Linked DNA regions of Homo sapiens: region 1 is linked to region 2. The links come from fine-mapping of genetic effects on gene expression. A gene starts in region 2. The other region holds a variant in brackets. All regions are shown on one strand. Distances are from middle to middle.

The links. PIP is the estimated chance that this variant, and not a neighbour inherited with it, causes the effect.
Region 1: its variant is the best candidate, but not a certain one, in a credible set for the expression of MYCBPAP in testis (GTEx, PIP 0.85).

Annotation. Positions count from the first base shown.
Region 1 is chr17:50,527,881-50,532,262 of GRCh38, forward strand. It overlaps MYCBPAP (MYCBP associated protein), which reads left to right. Exons shown (of 19, transcript NM_032133.6): 16 at 275-390; 17 at 815-960; 18 at 1,138-1,308; 19 at 3,447-3,621. The coding sequence ends at 3,548. Among named protein-coding and RNA genes, the nearest start is that of EPN3, 2.7 kb to the right of the region's middle. The variant G/A (reference allele first, on the strand shown) is at 2,373.
Region 2 is chr17:50,505,972-50,510,353 of GRCh38, forward strand. It overlaps MYCBPAP (MYCBP associated protein), which reads left to right and starts at 2,468. Exons shown (of 19, transcript NM_032133.6): 1 at 2,468-2,779. The coding sequence starts at 2,704. RefSeq lists a silencer at 2,174-2,463 and enhancers at 2,484-2,543, 2,564-2,693.

The sequences.
Region 1 (4,382 bases), 22 kb after region 2:
TGGCCTCAAGCCCTCTGAAGTAGGACTGAATTCATGCAGGCCTCCTAACCCTAGTCCTGGGCCATTTTTTTCTTGGTTGCCACCCAAGGCAAGCCAGAACCCCCTCCAAGCACTTGCCCTGGCGGGGAACAGTGAGGATGCTGGCTGTTCAGGGGTGTGGCATTTCCACAGCAGCTCGTGGCACCAGGGTCTTTGAAGGGAGGGACCCAAGCCTCTGCAGGTTCAAGGACAAATGAGGAGTGATGGCATTTCTCCACTGTGTCTTGCCCTCTAGTTTGCAGCTGTGGCGAGATGTGATTGACAGCCTGGTGGGCCATTCCATGTGGCTGAGGTCTGTGCTGGGCCTGCCTGAGAAGGAGACCATCTATTTGAATGTGCCTGAAGAGCAAGGTCAGATCTTGTGCAACCAACCACACCTCTGCATAGCCCTCCTCATCTCTCTGAATGGACAAGCAGCAGTGCCTGGGCCAGTCATACTCCTTTGGTGGAAGCTCTGCTAGGTTGAGCCCATGGAGTAGGCCCCTTACCCCTTTCTGTCCGCTGCCAGGATGTGGTACCCAGAAGCTACCTTAGTGACCACCTTGGTTTAGTAATCCCAGCAAAGTTAAATGACTTATCCATGGCCATTCATGGCATGGCAGAGCTGGGACCAGAACATAGGCACCACAGTCCTGTTTCATGAAGCCACGCGCCTACCAGGGCTCAAGGCTATTGCCCTTTGCTTTTCCACCTCCCCTCAAGCCTCCTCACGTACCTGCAGCATCCACTAGGCTGTTGGGGGCCTGCCATATTTTCTTCCACCCACCTCCCTTAGATCAAAAATCACCTCCTATCATGGAAGTGAAGGTACCTGTGGGGAAAGCTGGGAAGGAGGAGCGGAAAGGAGCAGCCCAGGAAAAGAAGCAACTGGGGATCAAAGACAAAGAAGACAAGAAAGGAGCCAAGCTGCTCGGGAAAGAGGCATGCTGGGGCGTGGTCTGGGCCAGGTGGGGCTGGGGAGGGGATTGGAGGGGCTGCGGAGGTGGGGGCTGTGGAGGTGGGCATGTGCCCAGGCTCTCCCAGTGAGCTACTGTTGAGGACATCCTTGGCCTACCTCTGGAGCTCCTGAAGGCTATGTGTGTCTCCCTCCCCCAGCAGGACCGTCCCAACAGCAAGAAGCACAAGGCAAAGGATGACAAGAAAGTCATAAAATCTGCAAGTCAGGACAGGTTTTCTTTGGAAGACCCTACCCCTGACATCATCCTCTCTTCTCAAGAACCCATAGACCCCCTGGTCATGGGGAAATACACCCAGAGCCTGCACAGTGAGGTGAAGGGAAGCGCCCAGCAGCCATTCCCCTGCCTCCCACCTGCCTTATTCATTCCGTTCAGTCTGCAGACAATAAGTGCCCACTCCATCATGGTGGAAGCAGAGCTGCTTCAGGAAGGGCATCCTCGTGTGTGAGACAGGCCTCATGAATAAGGAATGCGCCTAGCATGTTAGGTGATGAGTACGACGGGAGAGAAGATAGACCAGGCAGGGAATGGAGGCACAGAGGCCTCAGTGAGGAGGTGACAACCCACAAAGATTTGAAGGGAGGGGAAGGGTGGCCAAGTAGACGTCCAGTAAAGAGTGCTCCAGGCATGGGGAGCAACTGCCATAGGAGGGAGGGGCCAGAAGGGAGAGGGCAGTAGTGGGGAGCAGGTCATAGGGGTGGGGGATGGTTTGCAGGCTATTGTGAAGACTTGGGATTTTTCGGAGTGAAATGAGAAGTCACGCAAGGTTTTGAATAGAAACGCAATAGGGTCTGATAGGCTTTAGAAGGTGGCTCTGGCCGCCCTTTGGAGAACAGACTCTAGGGGAACAGAGAGGAAGGAAGCCCTTCTCTTTCTTACTCCCCGTTAGGTGCATCCTGGCAGATGCGTTCCTTGGGAGAACACCATGCAGGGTGCATTCCCATCAACTGTAAGAGTTTGAAGGACTAGAGAGACTTCATCCTAATCCGTTCTTAAGTAGCAGGTCCTTAGAAATTCACCCAGGTTTTCCGTTTTGTTTGTTAGTGTTGTTGTTTGTTTTGGAGGGGAGGTCCACAAAGCCATTTTCAATATGTCAGTATGTCTATTGGCGACGTCTTGCCTTCCTCTAATGTGGATAGCTGGGGAGCTGGGATTACATCATGTATTGTGGTCACACTCTGGATCTCATTTGATCAAAAGTTCCATTTGCCACTGGTGACATCACTAAGATATCAGATGGTTGATGGGGTCTAGAAAGTAATTAAAGGGCTCTGAGGACCCATGGGGGTCAACGTCAACCCTTCCATGGCTCTTTGATATTAAGAATCAACTTGCAGACCAGGTGCGGTGGCTCGTGCCTGTAATCCCAGCACTTTG[G/A]GAGGCCAAGGTGGGCAGATTGCCTGAGCTCAGGAGTTCAAGACCAGCCTGGGCAACATGGTAAGATCCCGTTTCTACTAAAAATTCAAAAAATTAGCCAGGCATGGTGACACTCACCTGTAGTCCCAGCTACTTGGGTGGCTGAGGCACAATAATCGCTTGAACCCGGGAAGTGGAGGTTGCAGTGAGCCGAGATCACGCCATTTCACTCCAGCTTGGGTGACAAGAGTGAGACTCTTACCTCCAAAAAAAAAGAATCAACTTGCTGGCCAGTGGCTCACACCTGTAATCCTAGCACGTTGGAAGGCTGAGGCAGGTGGATTGCTTGAGCCCAGGAGTTCGACATCAGCCTAGACAACACAGGGAGACCCCATCTCTGCAGAAAAAAAAAAGAATCAACTTGTCTGGGCTTGTATGATCCAACCCCATTGGAGGGGTCAGTCCCAGAGACCTTTCAGTCTGTGGATACAGGAAGGAAAATTGGCCTCCAGGAGGCCAGAGTAGAACTGGGGCTGAGCCCAGGCCCACCCCAAACGGCTAAATGGGCACCGCTCCATGGGCTCCCTGGAGTTGCCCCTTGAACAACTTAGCTCTAGTATCTCCATATGTCAAAGGTACCAGCGCAGGGCCACCTCCCCAGACTGGTTTGAAAAGTAAAACTGCAAAAGCAGGTGGATTGCTTGAGCCCAGGAGTTCGAGACTAGCCTGGGCAATGTGGTGAAACCCCATCTCTACAAAAAATAGAAAAAAGTAGCCAGGTCTGGTGGTGCACGCCTGTAGTCCCAGCTACTTGGGAGGCTGAGATGGGAGAATCACCTGAGCCAGGGAAGTCAAGGCTGCAGTGAGCCATGATCACACCACTGGACTCCAGCCTGGGTGACAGAGTGAGATCCTGTCAAAAAAAAAAAAAATCTGCAAAACCAAAAATTATTTCACAAGAACTTTGAACTTGTGAAATTCTTTCACAAACAACTGGTTTCTTTCCCCTCTCCAGCTATTCTCTCACAGCATAGTTCATATATAGGTGCTTCCCACAGAGTAAACTCTGCCTGTGATGTTGTCCCGTTCTTCCAGGTCCGTGGGCTGCTGGACACCCTGGTGACTGACCTGATGGTCCTGGCTGATGAGCTCAGCCCCATAAAGAATGTCGAGGAGGCTTTGCGCCTCTGCAGGTGACTCTCGGGCCCAAGCAACCTTCTGGAAAACGGGTTAATAAATAAATCAATAAAGAACCTTCAAGTTTCTACTACTTCCGTGTGCCTCTGTGTCTTGCATGATGGATCTTGGCTAGGTCAGCTCCTGATCCAGGTCCTCCCATGTTCCACCTGCCCTCAGATCCCCTCCTGCCAGCTGCCAGAGCCCTCCTGCAGGAGGACAGACAGACATAGCTGGGGAAGTGATGTGTGGGATGCCAAGCAGAGGAGCAGATTGGTAGCAAGACAAGGAGTCAGGTGACAGGACAGTGTGTCACCTCTGGTAGTCCCTGCCTCTGGCTTCCTTGGCCCACACTTTCAGGGTCGTGCTTCCTGGAGCCAGGTCTTCCCGAAGTGTCATCACCAAGTATGACAAAGTGTGAGATGAGGAGTAGAACTAGACCCATGGGACCTGGCTCCCTGCCATCTCCCCTCTTCAGCTGGGTCCCAGGGCCCCAATTCAGTCCCTGAAGATCATGCTCACCACACCTCTTCAGCTCTAGAGGCCACATCACCTTGTTATTTCGGGGTCTAGTCTGCCTTATCCCCCTCCTCATCTCAAACTATCTGGCCTTGAGCCATCTTTCTGCCTTAAAAACAGCTGCTGATCTTCATGCTACCTCCCTTGCTCAGGGGAACATGAAACAGGCTAGAAATGGCTCTCAGAAAAAAAGGTATTGTCAGCTCAAACTCAGGCCCCTCATTGTCTTCTGTCAGTCATAACCATTTGGGGCTGGGCTCCCTGTGTGAAGAGCACTCCAGGCTCCCAGAGTTTGAAGAACAACTTTGGTTTTTGGGTGGGTGGGCATCCTTAAGT
Region 2 (4,382 bases):
AGTCTGAGGCTCTCCCAGCCCTTTCCTGCTTCCTCTCCCTCACCGGCCTTGCCACTACCCCCTCTCTCCGCAATAAACCTCTTGCGGTCCTATGTTCATCTCAGTGCTTGCTTCCTGGAGGACCCACATGGCACAGCACCTAGCCTGCTGGATCATAAGTGCTCAGTCGCGAAGTAAACGGAACTGGGGATTCTCTAGAGGGTAGAGGGAAGCCAGAGCCTGGGCCTCGGAGAGCAGGAGAGGGGCTGTCCGTGGAGGATGCCTCAGTCATAAGGAGAGCAAGGTCTAGAGCAGTGTGAAGAAGGGGCCATGGCCCTGGAGCAGGACCCAGCAACGGGCAACACACAGGGAACTCAGGGATTCACCAGCACTGCTGGCATCGTCTCTAGCTCCTCCGCTGTCTGGGGCAGCTCTTGCAAACTCAGAAATGTCCCAGGAGACAGGGTTCAAAGAGCCCTGGCCTTGGACTTTAGAAAACCAGGTTCAATTTGTGCTTCCCGCTAGTCAGGTGACATTACACCCTTCTCTCTGGAGCTCAGTTTCTCCGTTTGTAAAATGGGCTTATAATGTGTCCCCTCCCTTCAACCCCAGCATGATTTTGAGAATTGACTGAGAAGATACTACAGTTTATGGAGGGCACCCTGTTTCGTAGTTTAAATGCACACTCAGGCCAGGTGAGGTGGCTCATGCTTGTAATCCCAACACTTTGAGAGGCCAAGGCGGGAGGATCGCTTAAGCCCACGAGTTCAAGACCAGCCTGAACAACATAGCAAGACCCTGTCTCTACAAAAAATTTAATAATTAGCTGGGTGCAGTGGCACATGCCTGTAGTCCCAGCTACTCGGAAGGCTAAGGCAGCAGGATCATTTAAGCTCAGGAGTTTGAAGCTGCAGTGAGCTATGATTGTGCCACTGCACTCCAACCTGGGCAACAGAGTGAGATACTCGCTAAGAAAAAGAAATACATACATATTCATTTAACCCTGGCAGTGGCCTTGTGAGAGCAGCATTATGACCTCCATTTTATGTATGTATATATGTATGTATGGATGTATGAGATGGGGATCTCACTTTGTTGCCCAGGCTGGAGTACAGTGGTGCAATCAGAGCTCACTGCAGCCTGGACCTCCTGGGCTCAAGCAATCTTCCTGCCTTAGCCTCCAGAGTAGCTAAGACTACAGGTGTGGGCCACCAAAGCCAGCTAATTAAAAAAAAATTTTTTTAGGCTAGGCACGGTGGCTCACGCCTGTAATCCTAGCACTTTGGGAGGCCGAGGCGGGCAGATCACGAGGTCAGGAGTTCGAGACCAGCCTGACCAACTGGTGAAACCCCATCTCTACTAAAAATACAAAACTTAGCCAGGCATGGTGGCACTCGTCTGTAATCCCAGCTACTCAGGAGGCTGAGGCAGGAGAATCGCTTGAACCTGGGAGGCAGAGGTTGCAGTGAGCCGAGATGGCACCACTACACTCCAGCTTGGGCACAGAGCAAGACTCCGTCTCAAAAAAAAAAAAAAAAAAATTTTTTTTTTTTTTTAGAATGGAGTCTCCCTACGTTGCTCAGGTCAATTTTGAACTCCTGGCCTCAACCAATCCTCCTGCCTCAGCCTTCTAAAGCACTAGGATTGTAGGCCTGAACCACTGTGCCCAGCAGAGAAAACCGGCTCTCTAGGTCAAGGCATTGGCTCAAGAACACACAGCTAACAAGCCGACATAGCTGGGATTAGAACCCAATTGTCTGGCTCTAGAACCCCTTCACTATTTGAGGTACAATTTACTGCCTGACTACTAGTGCTAAACTTTGGGTTGGGGGCAGGGCCTGAGGCAGCTCCTGCTCTCATACATTCTGAGAGCCAGTTTGACAATAGGCAACTACACAAAAAACCGAAATAATCCCAGAATGCCTCAGGGCTCCAGGGGAAGGCGAAAAAAGCGGGTGCGTTTATAAACTTAAAATAATCAGAGGCAGCATCTCCAAGGACTGTGAGAATGCCCCAAGTCAGGGCAAAAGTTTTGGCTGGTTTGGGAAGTGATGAAAGGCCAAAGTGGCTGCAGCGAGCGTGGACCCGGGAGGTCTCCAGGCGCGTTGGTGCGAGTTGGGGACGGCAGGCAGGGACACCTAAAACCTACGGTACGCCACGAAGGGGTTTCAGCACGTCCTGAAAGGCCCGATCCCCCCCCAGAACCGCTGTGAGGGGGGCAGAGGGAGGTCCCTCGACAGGATGTGGCCTTAGTCGAGGAAGGCGGGAAGCAGGGGCTGGCACCCCCGACGCCCCACCCGCCCCCCGTGGCCTAGCAGCAGGGCGGGGCGAGGCGGGTCATGCACCCCTACCAGCCAGCCACTCCCACCCAGCCCTCGGCTCCCGCAACTCGCGGGGGTCCTCGCCCGGGTCCCCCGCCCCGCCCCGCCCGGCTGGTGACGTCACGGCGCTCGTCGGCGCCGCCTGTGGCGTCACAGGCCGGGCCCGCAGGGCTTTCTAGGGGTCCGTCGCTCTTGAAGCCGCCGGCGGCGGGCGCGTGCGCGGCCCGATGAAGAAGGAGGTTTCCAAGCCGTCTCCGCCCAAGTTGATCGGTGGATGCGCGCCCCCGCGCGGGGCACCGGTTGCTGTGGACGCAGTGGCGGCCGTTGGCTGGCGGGTGCGGCGCAGCCTCGGTGTCTCTGGGCCGGCGGTGCAGGGCAACGTTTCATGGTGCCGGGCGGCACCATGAAGTCTCTAAAGAAGGATTCCCGCCTCAGAATAACTCCGACCAGATTATTAGAGGCCTCAGAGAATGTCAAAGGTTGGCGCTGGCTGCCTTGGGCGCTCGGGAGAACCCGAGAGGGGAAGCGGTCCCCGGAAAGAGTTCAGGACACGGGGCCTGGAGGATGGGGATGGCACCAGGGATGGAGGAAAGATCACGGGGAAGTGGGGTACTGGGCATAGGACCCTTAGGGATGGGGGGCAAGGCAGGAAGAGCCTACAGCGCACTGGGCCTTGGGGATGGGGACATAGGAAGTGGGAGACTGACAGAGGGGCCTCAGGGACCACTGGCTGGGGAGATGGCCTTGCGCTACCTCTAACCACATCTTAGGGTGGCATGCAGGAGGCAGGATCCCCGGACTGGATGAAGTGCAGAAGAGCCAGGAAAGAGTTTAAGGGTAGAAGGGCCAGGAATTGGGGTCCTTGGGAAGAGGAAAGAATGAAGTGTTGAAACCAGCCACCTTGATGGGATTATTTGGTAGAGGAGGGTCGGGGAGCGGGGCAGGCGTCACTTAGGATTCCTGCTGGAAAAACCCAGAAGAAAGGCCTTGCTTGGCTAGTTCTCTTTTTGACTGCCTTTTCCTACCACGTGCACTTTCCAGCTGGATGACACTTATCCAGCTCCTTTAGCCTGGAAAGAATCGCTAGATATGACTGCTTCCTACCCTCTACAGCTTTCTTCTGGTTGCACCTGGGAGAGCCACAGGGCGTCTGATAGCGGACTGACTTCCATGGACATGTTCTCACTTGCAACCCACCCCCTTTTGATCTTTTTTGGCTGTTTCCATTTATTTATTTTTAAATTTAATTTTTAGCTTTTTTTTTCTGTGTGTGTGTGTGTGTGTGTGTGTGTGTGTGTGTGTGTTTGTAAACAGGGCTCTCGCTGTGTTGCCCCAGCTAGTGTCAAATTCTTGGCCTCAAGCGATCCTCCTGCCTCGGCCTCACAGACTGCTAGGATTCCAGGCATGGACCACTGCGCCCAGCCTATTTTTGTTTACTGAGAGCTGATTTTGTGTGGTACTGTGGCTCACCAGAAGGGTATCGGTATTAACTGTGTGACCCTGGTCCTCAAGAAACTCAGTCTAATGAACACCTGGAGGAGTAACCTGACAAAGGTAGAAATACAAATGCTGTGATGTAGGTGCCCATCGGGCTTAAGGGGGCTCAGAGCACCTGAGCCAGACCAGGGATGGTTGTAGGGGTACGTCTTCTGAAGAAGGTGACATCTATGGCAGACAAGAAAAAAAAGGAGAGGTTTGCTTCTCTAGGTCTAGGAAGCAGCATGAGTTTATGGAACTGTAAATGTGGGAACCAGAAGAGGCTGCACAGGTGGGTAGGTCAGGGGCCAGACCATGAAAGGGCTTTATGTACTAGGTCAGAAAGCCTGGATGTGCTCTTGCAGGCCCTGGGGAGACCCAGCCTCAGAGTTGTGAAAGCTCATTGTGAGGAGAGGGGACCCTCAGAAAACTAACAGGAGCTTAGTCGCTTTTCAGTATGGCTTTATGTTTCTTCACGTATAAAAGTCCAACGTTGAGCCGGGCATGGTGGTGCACATCTGCAGTCTCAGCTGCTCAGGAGGCTGTGGCAGGAGGATTGTTCCAGGCCAGGAGTTTATGATCACACCTGTGAATAGCCACTGCATT